Homo sapiens: one gene and its partners. The protein of the gene in region 2 interacts with the protein of the main gene of each other region in a biochemical or structural test. Each region holds a gene or a part of one and is shown on either strand. Other genes may lie near its edges.

Region 1 (3,500 bases), on a different chromosome or scaffold from region 2:
CTACTCTCTGTCCACAGTCTCCCATCCTCCCAGTTTGCCTACTCTGTCTTTTCACTTCAAAGAGACCTCAAGTCCCTCAATGTCTCCATTTCCTCCCAGACTTTTAGCCCTTACCTATCTGATCTGGTCTTCAAGTGCAATCACCTGAACTACTTCATCCTCAACTTCTTCTCACGTCTGGCAAAACCACAATCCTGAATCTATCCAAAACCTGAATTTTCCATCCCCACATCTGGACTGTCAAAGCTGCTAGAGAGAAAAAAAAAAGCCACATTCTTCTGTGCATCACTGCCATTATAAATTTACAGCTGCTAATTTACCCAAGACTTCAGGACTGCTAGGCCATCCTTTTACTTTCCTTTGTCTTCCTCTTTCTTTCCCCTTAGCAAATCTTCCATACATTGAACTCTCCCCACACACCCTGCCAACTTCTCCTCCCTCACTCAAAGCATCTGATCTCACCTCCCATTTCAATGAGAAAACTGCATTTTTAGATGGGAAATACTTCAGCTTCCAGCCCTCTTCAATAACAAACTACTAACACCTCCATTCAACTCACCTTTTTTCCTCCAGTCTCTGAGGATAAGGCATCCTTATTCCAGACTAAGATCAACCTCCACCTCACCCCAACCTTTGCTCTGGACCTCATCTCTCCTCATCTCTTCAGGCACCCTGATCTACCCACAAGCCCCCTCTTTCCCTTGTCTACAGCCTCTTCCCTCCTCCCCGGGTCCTCCCCCAATCTAATCAAGGTGCTCAAGATGCAGCCTCATCTCTTCACAGCCACATTTCATTAAAGAGGCTTGGGATATTAGGCCAGAAACTCAGACAAGGGTGAAGCCTTGTTTTAAAAGCTAGGGCACAGGTGCAGAAGAAGCTGCAATTCAGAAACTAACAGAACAAGAATGTCCCATTGCAAAAGCCTCAACAGTAGGAATTTGGAATGATGGAACCTGAGGCAGGCCTCCTGAGTGCTTCTTATTTCAGGCCTTGGTTGCCCTGGAAACTGGGGCTGGACAGAGTCCTTGGAGTAGATAGGTGGAGCCACTTGTGAGGAAACAAGGGCAGGCAGAGGCTGATCCTGTCCACTCTTGGTTTCAACTACTATTGCTGGCTGAAGGCTCTCACATCTATATTTTCAGCCCTGACTTCTCCTTCAAGATTCATGCTGGAGTTATACAATTTCCTGCTGCTTTCCCAGTAGGGACTTCAAAGTTAACAAGCACAAAACTGAACTTTTAAAAACCTTAAACCTGCTCCTGTATGCACTATCTCAATTAGTGACACTACTGTTCAACCAGGCATTGGAATATGGAGACTCAATACCCTTGATTTCTTCTCCCTGCCTTCCCTGACACATCCAATGAATGCCTTAAATTTGTTATTTTTTATCTATCTCTAGAATCACTATCTAATTTAAGATCCTTGCATCTATTCACCTGAACTGATGATATCTTTTAATTAGTCTTATTCTGAAACACATGGTGGTGTGCTTGGAGCTGGCTTGCACCAGCTGGCGAGAGCGGGTTATCTGCTCCTCTTCCCAACTCCATGTTCCAGGATGTCATATTGGTAGCATGAAACTGGCCACAGTGGGAGTATTTACACCACAAAAACTGGCAAACACACAAAACAGGATATTTTTTCCTCCCCTGTGGAGAGCTGGTTGTTAAACATTTATGAGCATGATTACCACTGCCCATTTCCCACACTGTGGCCAAGCTAATCAACTATGCCACTCTCCTGATTAAAACCCTCAGTGGTTCCCCGTGGTCAACAGATAACATATAAATTCCTTAGCATGGCATATGAGGCCTTTTATCATTTGGCCCTTGCCTAAATATCCAATTTCTTCTCCCATCTCTTTTTAGTCTCACAACTTATGTGCTAGCACGAAGGTCACAAACTGGTTCACTGGAGCCAAATTTGTTTCACATATGTATTTTGCTTGGCCTGCACACTGTCTTTAAAATTTTTGAGCCAACGTTTATAACTTTAAGAGCTTCTACCCCCAAATCCATGTTTCCGGCTTCTTTTCAAAAATTTATAACACTGCTCCTCACTTGTGTTTATGACAATTTACAGGAGCTGAGTAGTAGCTGCCCCCTTTGAGAGGGTCTCTGCAGTTTACCAGTTTCTATCATTCACTCGCCCAAATTATGCGTATACACCTACACCTGGTCCTGATTTCTGTTACCTGTTTGGCCTGCATTTTAGATAGATTATTATCAGAATCTTCTAACCCTCATTATAGAACTTTCTCTTCCTTTACTTTGGCTGTCCTGATGATAGTCCGTGGTCTCTGCACAGCCTGGGAAGGAATAAAAACAGCAAGATGATGAAGGAGGACAAAGCAGAAGGGGTAGAAGGAATAAAAAGAAACCCGTAGTCTATGGATCAGTCCCCACTTTGAAGCAATAGAATTGTGAAAAATACAGGCAGAAATGTCCCAAGTTTGTGAGACCTCGTAGTAGTTCCCTGCAGAGCTAATCATCTAACCCTTCTTGGAGTCTTGGGATGTCTGCCTTCTCAGCTGGACATGGGAAGGAGAGGTCCAAGGAAATTAGCTCATATTGACCCAAATTGTGGGAGTCAGGTTTATAAACAATAGAGTCAATTTCTCTTTTCTTTTCTTTACTTTTTTATTGGAGACAGGGTATCACTCTGTTGCCCAGGCTGGATGGAGTGCAGTGGCATGATCACAGCTCACTGCAGCCTCGACCTCCCAGGCTCAAGCAATCCTCCCATCTTAACCTCCCTACTAGCTGGGACTACAGGTGCTTGCCATCACACCTAGCTAATATAATGTTTTTGTTTGTTTGTTTGTTTGTTTTTTAGAGACAGAGTCTCACTATGTTGCCCAGGCTGGTCTTGAACTCCTGGGCTCAGATGATCCTCTCACCTCAGCCTCCCAAAGTGTTGGGATTACAGGCATGAGCCACCACGCCTGGCCCAAGAGAGTCAATTCCTTAATGTGAAAACAGGAAATTTAATTTATTTTTGCTGAGTGCCTGCTGTGTGTCTAGCACTGTGCTAGATGCCATAGGGGAAACAAGAGCAGACCAGGACAACTCTGCCTTCAAAGAGCTCATAACCTTATCAAGGAGGCAAAAAGTACGTGTGTGAAGTAATTTGAGAATAATGTAAGACAGCATCAGAAAAGTGATTTTCTTGCATGTAACCTTGTGCCCACAGTATTTGAGCGGGCAGCAAGAGATAAGCTCAAAGTTAAGAGGAGGAGCTATTGAAGAAGCCAGAACTTGCAATGGCCCCTGAGTGGCAGAGAAATGGGGCGAGAGACCATTCCACACAGGGGATCCACAAGGATATACACACAGAAAGCAACCTGTGAGTGACAACACTGATAGGAGGAGAAAAAGCAGTCTGGGCGGGAGGGCAAGGTTGGTCACTGTAGACCAGTTTTCTTTTTAAAAGGTTTCCTCTCTGGTGTTAGGTACTCAGGAAGCCGAATGGAGAATAATAAAGTTCCTTGTTAGACA
Region 2 (3,500 bases):
CAATGTGAAATAAGCATGTCATGGAGAATGGGGTACCCATCCCCTCAAGCATTTATCTTTTGAGTTATAAACAATCCATCTACACCGTTTAAGTTTGTATTTATTTTTTTTGGAGCCAGAGTCTCGCTCTGTTGCCCAGGGAATACAGTGGTACGATCTCGGCTCACTGCAACCTCCGCCTCCCGGGTTTAAGCAATTCTCCTGGCTCAGCCTCCCAAGGAGCTGGGATTACAGGCCCCCACCACCATGCCTGGCTAATTTTTGTATTTATAGTAGAGACACGGTTTCACTATGTTGTCCAGGCTGGTCTTGAACTCCTGACCTCAGGAGATCTGCCTACCTCGGCCTTCCAAAAGTGCTGGAATTACAGGTGTGAGCTACTGCACCTGGCCTAAGTTATTTTAAAATGGACAATTAAGTTATTATTGGCTATAGTCACCCTGTTGTGTTATCAAGCTCACAGACTTTTCCTCCGTGGAAGGGAATCTGCTCAGTTCTGCCCCAGCAGCACTTGGCCATGGGGTTTGGGAGGTCAGGGAGCCTGGAAACTTTGTCGGAGTTTGACTATTGCAGAAATGCCTCCCAGCCCACTGCCCAGGCATCAGGTCCCCACCCACTCTGGCCTCCTTCAGTGCCCAAGCTTGGTCCAGTCCTAACCCCTTCCAAATTAACCCCCTCAGGAGTGTCTCCTCCATCATGTACCCTAGCCTGATCCCCTGAATGGGCTTTTCTGACCCTGAGTAGACCAGCCTCTGTGGCCAGATACACACACTCGCATACACACAGGACTCAACTCCAGCTTCCCTACATCACCAAAGTCCAGATCTTCCAAAGCTGTGACTTTCTTCCTGTACCCACAACAGGCTCTGCTGCTATAACAAACAAACCCAACATTTTTTATTGTTGTTGTTTTTGAGACAGGGTCTAGCTCTGTTGCCCAGATTGGAGTGCAGTGGTACAATCATAGCTCACTACAGCCTCCAACTCCTGGGCTCAAGTGATCCTCCTGCCTCAGCCTCTCTAGTAGCTGGGACCACAGGTGTGCACCACCACACCTGGCTGATTAAGAAAAAAAAAAAAGACTGGGGAGATGAGGTCTTGCTATGTTGCCCAGGCTAGTCTCAAACTCCTGGCCTCAAGCAATTCTCCTGCCTCAGCCTCCCAAAGTGCTGGGATTATAGGTGTGAGCCACTGTGCCTGACCCAAAATCAACAACTTAGTGCGTTTGCACTACAGAAGTTTACTTTTCACCCACAGAGTCCTCTAGGGGGTCAGTAGACTTTCTAGGGTGGCTTGATGTCCATACGAGGTCTCAGCATTTCAGACTCCTCCATCTCTATGTGAAGCTTCAGGGTTCCCTATGGAAGAGGAAGAGAGCTTGGAAAATTGTGCATCTCCTCTTAGAACAGCACCTGTCCTCAATGCTCATTGGGCAGAACTAGGTACACTGCTCCTCCCTAAGGATGCTGGGAAATGTAGTCTAATGTGTGTCCAGGAAAGAGGGAAGACCTAGAAATATTGGTGAGTGCGAGTAATGCCTGCTACAATCCCAGATCACCTGCCATGGAGCCAAAGGTCTATCCCAGACTCCATCTAATCCCTGCAGAGTTGGAAGGGGGCACGTTCAGAGCTCCAAACAGGGCAGGATGCAAGAGAAGACCTGCCCAGGAGCAGGGCTGGGCAGCAACCCGCTGAGGGTAGAATCCGACAGGCTGCCCAGGCCAGCTGCAGTGTGTTTTCTGGCAAGGAGGAACGGGGAAGTGGAGGATTTTGGTTAGGGCTCGCTGGGCACCCACAAAAGCTGAGAGTGAATCTCCAAAAATGACTTCCTCTGGAAGATGAAGGGCCTCCGTGGAGCCCAGTTGGTTTTCTATCTTTTTTTTTTTTTTTTTGAGACAGAGTTTCGCTCTTGTTGCCCAGGCTGGAGTGCAATGGCGTGATCTTGGCTCACTGCAACCTCCGCCTCCTGGGTTCAAGCAATTCTCCTGCCTCAGCCTCCCAAGAAGCTGGGATTACAGGCATGTACCACCACGCCCGGCTAATTTTGTATTTTTTTTAGTAGAGACAGGCCAGGCTTGGTGGCTTGGCTGGGCACGGTGGCTCACACCTGTAATCCCAGCACTTTGGGAGGCCGAGGCAGGCAGGTCACCTGAGGTCAGGAGTTCAAGTAGAGATGGGGTTTCACCATGTTGGTCAAGCTAGTCGCAAACTCCTGACCTCAGGTGATCCACCTGCCTCTGCCTTCCAAAGTGCTGGGATTACAGGCATGAGCCACTGCGCCAGACTGGTTGGTTTTCAATCACCAGCCCTCCAGTTCTCGCCTGCGCTTTCTGCCTGCCCCAGTTTTTCCTCCTTGAAGTGGCTGATATTTAATAGAAAATCCATTAGTGTCCCGTGATGATACCTCATGCTTAGATGTAGGCTGAGAACATCTGGGTAATAACTGACACCGAAACCGCACTGTAGCACGGGCCCCAGGAGGGAGGAACTATTTTTTCCTCTTTCTTACATAAAACATCTCTGCAGCCAGCCATGTTCTCCTTTGAATTGAGGTTGCTGCTGACTTTGATTTCCAAACTGGCAACCTTCCCCAGCACGGCGCGTGCGTGGGGAGGGGGCGGCTGGTGCTGCCAGCCTGGCCCACTCACAGGGAGGGAAACAGTGGTGAGCTGGGGCCTGCAGGAAGTGCAATGCAAGGCTGCTTTTTGATTCAGTCCCATCCACATTCTCTGAGTGCCTAATATGTGCCAGGCGCTGTGCTTGGGGCTGGACAAGCATGAGACCCCGGATCATCACACCTGGGTGGGGGAGACAGACGGTTACACAGACTCATGGTGCATCTGTGCTAGGATTCAGACGTGTACAGAACGTGGCCTCTGACTGGAAACCCTCGAAGCTTCCCGCTACTTCTCCTCCCCTTTTGGAATCATCTAGAAAGCGGGTGGATATACAGTTCCAGAGTTCAAGAGCGAGCTCTCGGCTGAAGATCGAGGTCTGAGAGTCACTGTCTGGGGTTCTTCGCCAGAGCTGGGTCGTGGAGAGCCTCAAGTGCAATAGTGAACTGCAGTGGCAAAGGGCAGTGGTACAGAAACAGCACGTGTAGACGGCTCCAGACTACAGAAGGGAGGAGAATGAGCAGCTTTCAGGATCAAAGGAGGATTGTCTTTTATTTATTTATTTATGGAGACAGGGTCTTGATCTGTCACCCAGGCTGGAGCTCAGTGGTGTGATCATGGCTTACTGCAGCCTTGATTTCCCGGGCACAAGAGATCCTCCTACCTCGGCCTCCCAAGTATCTGGTAGCTGGGAATACAAGCGTGCACCACCATATCTGGCTAACTTTTTACTTTTTCTTTTCTTTCTTTTTTTTCTTTTGAGATGGAGTCTGTCTCTGTCACCCAGGCTGGAGTGCAGTGGCGCGATCTCGGCTTACTGCAAGCTCCGCCTCCCGGGTTCACACCATTCTCCTGCCTCAGCCTCCCGAGTAGCTGGGACTACAG
Region 3 (3,500 bases), on a different chromosome or scaffold from region 2:
GTATTTCCTGTATTTCCTGCACTGGAATGAAGATACCTCCACATCTATATACCATGCCTTCAGCAGCCTCTGTTATTTTACTCCCATCCTGGGAGCAGCCATTGCTGACTCGTGGTTGGGAAAATTCAAGTAAGGAAGATGGGAGGTCACATCCCTACAAGTTTCACAGGTTGTGCAGAAGGCTATCACTTCTAGCCTCTTGCTTCTGAGTAAGAACATACCTATGTCATGCGTGAAAAATAAGAATCTCTGTACATCTGTGTAGTGTGGGAAATTTAAAAAAAAAGAATCTCTGTGGTAACAAGGAAAGGCTATTCTTTTCATTATCAATTTTTCCAATGTGTTTACATCCTCTTCAGTTGCGGTATCTTTTGTTCCTTAAAACTAATTTTAACCTTCCATTCCATAGTTTAATATTAAATCTTGCTCTGATCTTGTTGGAGATAGACAGCACTATCCACCAGCAAATTTCTAATTTTAGCCAGGTGCGGTGGCTCACGCCTGTAATCCCAGCACTTTGGGAGGCCGAGGCGGGCAGATTGCCTGAGGTGAGGAGTTTGAGACTAGCCTGGCTAACATGGTGAAACCCCGTCTCTACTAAAAATACAAAAATTGGCCAGGCATGGTGGCGGGCACCTGTAATCCCAGCTACTTGGGAGGCTGAGGCAGGAGAGTTGCTTGAATATGGGAGGCAGAGGTTGCAGTGAGCCAAGATCATGCCACTGCACTCCAGCCTGGGCAACAGAAAAAGACTCTGTCTCAAAAAAAAAAAAAAATTGAAATTTTGATGCTTTTATGTAGTTATTTGATACTTTCTCCATCTCTTCTCCAGATTGAGTTATCCCACCTCCTTTAGGATCTTCTTATGAGTGTCTCTTTTCAGCTCTTTTACCATCTATTTCTCTTCTCTAATGTCTTTTGTAGTTTCCTTCTTATGAATCTAATATTTTCATGAGTTAGACTATTGGTTCATTCAGTTCAGTATCTTTTAAGTCCCTGAACACAGCACCAAGAGATATAACATGGTATAATGTTATAATTGTCCCCTATAACATTAAACTGATAAGCTTAGAAATGGATCGTGGTTATCCCCTGCCCAATTATTTTCTATGGACCTGTCATCCATAGATTTGTCTAAATGAGCATTTCTCAAAGGGCATTCTGTTCAAAACTATAAAATATAATAAGTTATGTGGGAAAATAAAGCTCTTGTGGTCAAACAAGTTTGGAAACTGTTAGGCTGAGCAAAGCTAAAAATGTTCCCTTACTGCATGACTTCTTATAGCCTTAAATACGCTAATATGAACTATAAAATCTCCATAGAAGGTTGTAGTATGTAGTGTTTCCCAAACCAGTTTGACTATGGAATATTTTTTCTGGATATTTTGTGGACCCAGTGTTCCAAGGAATTCTCTTTAGTAAACAATGGTTTATAGCTTACTTTGGCCGATATATGTTCATTATTCTATAAGTGTTTAATCAGCACCTAATATATATCTATAGACATAACACAGTACTGAACAGTTTCTTGACTTGGGAGAGGAATGGTGGGTGAGTAGCTGAGATCTACATTTGCTACATATGTAGTAGTAGTCACCAAGTTTATCTAGATAGGAGATTGGCACTACTTGCAGAATAAAAAGTGCAAGCCATAATCTATTTATTCAGTTGTAGAATAAAGATTCATATACATGACATACCACTTTTATTTATTTTAAAAATAACTTCCTTTAAGATTGAAGAAGTACAGTTACAGGATTTGGTGAGCAATTGTTTCCTGGTTAATTCAGAGAAAATTTAACAACCTCTACTTGTGCTCTCAAATCAATCCTTCTTGATGTATTTATTATTGTTTTTAATTTATTTTTATTGGGATATAACTTACATAAAGTACACAAATTCAAAAGCCTTAACTGTACACCTTGATCAGTTTTTATGTATGTATCACCATCACCTAGATCACTCTCCCTAGGGTCTCTGTACCCTCACTATTCCCCTCTCTTGCCTTCAAATTCTCCCAGAGAACCAGAGTCTTTTCCTTCAACTAGAAGCAGGAGCAAATCTTTAATAGCTTTAAATGAACAAAACTCATCTTGACTCTCTTTTCCTATCATTTTTCTCCTTTTACATTAACCCCATATTATAAAAATAATCCTCTGTATGTGTTGCCTTTCTCACTCTTCATTATCAGTTCTTATGGTAGAGTAATATAATATAATGCAATATAATCCAATTCAATTTAATTTGATTTGACCCAATTTAATTCAATAAATGTTTATTGAGCACCTTCTGTTTGTCCAAGGAACCATGGAGGATGAAGAGGTGAATTACACATACTACCTAATTCATATTGTTCATATTCAAATAGCTTTAATACAGATCATATTGTAGTACAATAAGATATACTGTAAATCATCTTTTTTCCTTCTGAAATTACTCCCTAAGATCACTGGTAAGAATTTCTTCATTAGCAAATTCCAGTGGTCTTTTCTAAATTCTTACTCATTTTGAACTTGTTGTTAACATTTCAGTCTGTTTATCATTTCTGTGAAACTCCCTGGCCTTCTCTACAGTATATTTTTCTCACTCTCGTCCTCTTATATCTTTTCTTACTTATCTGGCTTCTCTTTTGCCTCTTGTTTACTTCACTCTTTCCTGAGTGTAAGCATTTTCCCAGGTTATAACTTTTACCCTCTTCTCTTTCTCTAGATTCTTCCTTAGCAAATTCTGTGGTGTGGATATTAGCTATATGCAGATGGCTCCTCAAATTCCAGTGAATTACATATTGGCATTCACCTCCACAAATCTGTTCTTTCTTCTGTCTTCTCTACATTCCCACCTTCAATCAGTTATCAAATTCTACCAATTCTGCTTGCCACAATCTCTCTCACATTTATCCCTTTTCAGCACAACATCCACTGCATTAGTTGCCATCACCCAGTTTTGGTCTTCATTGTCTCAATGTCTTTAAATTGAGATATTAAAATGGACATCTAAAATGTTTTTACTGCTTCCCATCTCTTTTTCCTACAATTGAGCATATATGCTACTGCCAAATTAATTTTCCTAAAAGAAATCCTGATCACATTACTACTCTGCTCAGCAATTTCTGGTGACTATTAAATCACTGTCTACTAATCTCACTCCAACTGACTTTTCTGTGCTTACTGTCATACTTATCTCCTTTCGAGAATGGCCACTAGAGGAAAATGTAATACTAATATTTCTGTAATCATATCCAATGACATCTCTTTTTCATGTCTGTTTGCATTGTTTCTGCTTCATGGAAACCCCTTCTTCCCCACCCTTTCATGTCCAAACCCCGTAAGGCTCACTCAAATACCACCTATGCTATGGAGTATTCTCTGCCCCCTCACCTTTTACTATAGCTGGAAGTAATATAGTGTTTTCTGAGTTCTTTGTTTTCTCACCCTTATATGACATTTACTAAACTCTATCTTATTATAGTTATTTAATTATTTATATATGAATCTGATATC
Region 4 (3,500 bases), on a different chromosome or scaffold from region 2:
CTTTGGGAGGCTGAGACGGGCAGATCACCTGAGGTCAGGGGTTCAAGAACAGCCTGGCCAACATGATGAAACCCCATCTCTACTAAAAATACGAAATTAGCCAGGCACGGTGGCACGTGCCTATAATCCCAGCTACGTGGGAGGCTGAGGCAGGAGAATTGCTTGAACCCAGGAGGCGGAGGTTGCAGTGAGCCAAGATCATGCCACTGCACTCCAGCCTGGGCAAAAAGAGCAAAACTCCATCTCAAAAAAAAAAAAAAAACTTTGGTTGTTATATGGGCCAAAACCAGTTTTGACCAAGATACGACTCCTCCCTTGGAAAAGTGCGTGTAGTATGGCACCAGCCACGGGAGCCTCCCGCAGGGACACAGCCCAGAGCAGCCCTTCATCGTGCCACAGTGCCGTTCACCAGTGTGAATCCACTCACGTCCCACGCATCAGAAAACCCCCATCAGCCACTCCCAGCTACTCTGGCGGACCGAATGCAGAAAAGGAATGTGCTTTCCCTGCCAAGTTGTTCTTCCCTTTCCATCCCTGGGGAGGGTGTGCAGGACAGAAAGTGTCTGACCTTCTCACTCCAAGGAGCATTTGCTGAGCTGGCGTCCCAGGAAATGTTTGGGAATTGGGCCTCCCAATCAGAGGACAAGCCGTCAGGGCAACCCGGTGCCCTTGTGCCAGTGTCTGCTCCCACCAAGGGCCCTGCCTGTGCAGCCTGGTGACACTGTCCTCTCCTGCAGGTGGTATGGATCACAGCCACCATGCCATACGTGGTCCTCACTGCCCTGCTCCTGCGTGGGGTCACCCTCCCTGGAGCCATAGACGGCATCAGAGCATACCTGAGCGTTGACTTCTACCGGCTCTGCGAGGCGTCTGTGAGTACAGTCTGCTCACTGCTTCACAGTCCACAGGGGCTCTGGCATTCCCAGGTTTCCATATGCATTGCCTGCCAGGGCTGAGAGGTGTCAGAGTTGCAGACACCAGGGTTCTTTCCTCGGGAAGCCAAATCCCAAGTACCTGTGATACAGCACGAGTCATCTAAATCAAATTACATCAGAAACTCCATCTAGACTCAGGCTGCAGCTTTGGTCAGCAAAAGAAGACATAATTCAGGGTTAAAATATTTGGAGAAAGCCTCCCGGAGAGAGGAGACTCAGCTGGGCCATGGGGGATGGGACCCTTGTCCAGAAAGGGAGGAGAAAGGGCTGCACCCTTCCTGGCAAACAGGCCCAGAAACAGAAGCAGCTGTTGGCGGAAGGCTGGCATGACAAAAATGGCAGCTCCCTTGGGGCATCGTTGGAAATCAGGTGGACTAAGTGGGGGAGGTGGCAGGCCCCAAAGCCGCCCAGGGGCATCCATGTTGCTGTGGGAGGACAATGCAGCAAGAGGGGAAGGGCCATCTCAGCTGGGGTATGAGGCAGGAGGCCGTTGAGAGGTGCTGCCCTGTGTGGGTGGGCCGGTGGAGCCAGGTCTGGGGGTCATGAGGCAAGTGTAAACCCAAGGCAGAAGTGGGAAGGAAGGGGAGAAGGGATGGGCGGGCATGGCTGCAAGCCTCCCAGGAAGCCCCAGGGAGGCAGCAGCTGACAGGTGCAGTGAGAGAGGGCACCTGGACATGGCACCTATGAGGCTGCAAAGCAGTTGGGTGGGGGTGGGGGTGGAAGTGTGCCTGCAGCACTGAAGGGGAAGCCCTGTGGAGACAGGAGCCATGGGTGCAGCAGGCGTGTGGCCCACGGGAGCCAAGGAAGAGAGAGGAGGACAACCAGGGCAGCAAAATCAGCTGTGGCCGGGGGCCCACAAGTGCAGAGCTGGAGCCAGACAAACCATGAAGTCAGCAGGGCGTCTGGACCCCAGAAAGGCCAAAATGAAGCCAAGGGGTGTGTTTGCAGGACCATGGCATGTTACAGAATCAAAGAAAAATACCACAAGGACAACGTAGAGCCTAGTGCTCCAGCTAGGAAGAATAGGCAGCCCCAGGAGGAGGCAAAACAAACACCAGTGCATGTGAAAAGATGCTCACTGGAGAACAAATTACAAAGATGAGATGTCAGAAATTAGGTGGAGACAGTGAATAGATTGGATGGATGGATGGATGGATGGATGGATGGATGGATGGATGGATGAATGCTAGGTAAGTAGGTGGATAGGATGGATGGATGATAGGTGGGTAGATAGAATGGATAGATAGGATGGGTGGATGGAAGGCTGGCTGGCTGGATGTATGGATAATGGATGGGTGGATGGAGGAATGGATGATAGGTAGGTAGCTGGATAGTATGGATGGATGGATGATGGATGGATGGATGGATGGATGAATGGATGATGCATGGGTGAATGGGTGGATGAATGATAGGTAGCTAGATAGGATGGACAGATGGATAATGGATGGATGATGGATGGGATGGATGGGTGGATGGATGATGGGTGGATTGCTGGATGATGGATGGCTGGGTGGATGGATGAATGATAGGTAGGTAGCTGGATAGCATGGATGGATGGATGGATGGATGATGAATGGATGATGGATGGGTGAATGGGTGGATGAATGATAGGTAGGTAGCTAGATAGGATGGATGGATGGATGGATAATGGATGGATGACGGGTGGGTGGATGGATGATGGGTGGATTGCTGGATGATGGATGTTTGGGTGGATGGATGAATGATAGGTAGGTAGCTGGACAGCATGGATGGATGGATGGATGATGGATGGGTGGGTGGATGGATGGATGGATGGATGATGGGTGGATTGGTGGATGATGGACAGATGGGTGGATGGATGAATGATAGGTAGCTGGATAGCATGGATGGATGGATCGATGATGGATGGGTGGATGGATGGATGATGGATGGGTGGATGGATGGATGATAGGTAGGTAGATAGGATGGATATACAATAGGATGGATGGAGATAGATACATACACACACATGTACTTCATATATTCATAGATGATAGACAGTTGATAGATTATAGAGATGACAGATAGATGATAGATTGGTGATGGATTGATAGATGACAGTGATAGATGATAGATAGATAGATGATTGATTGATAGATAATAGATGATGGATTGATGTATAGTGAAGAGAAATCAGGAAAGAAATGGAAGGAAAGGACAATTGCAGGTCCTGGAGTGAAAGTGCATGAGGTGAGGCCCAGGGAGGCAGCCATGGGCACTGGCTCTGGTGTGGCACTGGGCAGAGGCCTGAGCTGCACACACAGATCAGGGTGAGGAGGAGGCAGGCGCTCCCCTGTGACACCTGATCCAGCCTGCAGCTACCTGGCCAGGCAGGTGGCTGATGACCAGCATGGGAGCCACATCAGGGTATGAGCCTCTCCACCCACTGCCCACCCAGCCACTCTCGGCTTGGCTCCTCCCCTCATGCTGAAACACTGGCCACCTGCAGAGTCCTGACTGCGGGGCCTGGCCATCTGCCTCCAAACACACTGTCCCAGGAACTGGGGTTGCCTTGAGGCTCTGACATGCTGCCCAAAGGACAGAGGG

The links. The genes of interacting proteins can lie anywhere in the genome.
Region 1: the proteins of GRID2IP (region 2) and TRPC5 interact in a test that uses a peptide from one of them, tested with the Homo sapiens proteins (one large-scale study listed by IntAct).
Region 3: the proteins of GRID2IP (region 2) and SLC15A2 interact in a test that uses a peptide from one of them, tested with the Homo sapiens proteins (one large-scale study listed by IntAct).
Region 4: the proteins of GRID2IP (region 2) and SLC6A3 interact in a test that uses a peptide from one of them, tested with the Homo sapiens proteins (one large-scale study listed by IntAct).

What each region holds. Positions count from the first base shown.
Region 1 is NC_000023.11:111,915,277-111,918,776, reverse strand, and holds part of TRPC5 (short transient receptor potential channel 5), read left to right. Parts: intron 1-3,500. UniProt on the Homo sapiens protein: Forms a receptor-activated non-selective calcium permeant cation channel. Mediates calcium-dependent phosphatidylserine externalization and apoptosis in neurons via its association with PLSCR1.
Region 2 is NC_000007.14:6,544,962-6,548,461, reverse strand, and holds part of GRID2IP (delphilin), read left to right. Parts: intron 1-3,500.
Region 3 is NC_000003.12:121,897,401-121,900,900, forward strand, and holds part of SLC15A2 (solute carrier family 15 member 2), read left to right. Parts: coding exon 1-129; intron 130-3,500. UniProt on the Homo sapiens protein: Proton-coupled amino-acid transporter that transports oligopeptides of 2 to 4 amino acids with a preference for dipeptides. Transports neutral and anionic dipeptides with a proton to peptide stoichiometry of 2:1 or 3:1.
Region 4 is NC_000005.10:1,417,941-1,421,440, reverse strand, and holds part of SLC6A3 (sodium-dependent dopamine transporter), read left to right. Parts: intron 1-737; coding exon 738-872; intron 873-3,500. UniProt on the Homo sapiens protein: Mediates sodium- and chloride-dependent transport of dopamine. Also mediates sodium- and chloride-dependent transport of norepinephrine (also known as noradrenaline). Regulator of light-dependent retinal hyaloid vessel regression, downstream of OPN5 signaling.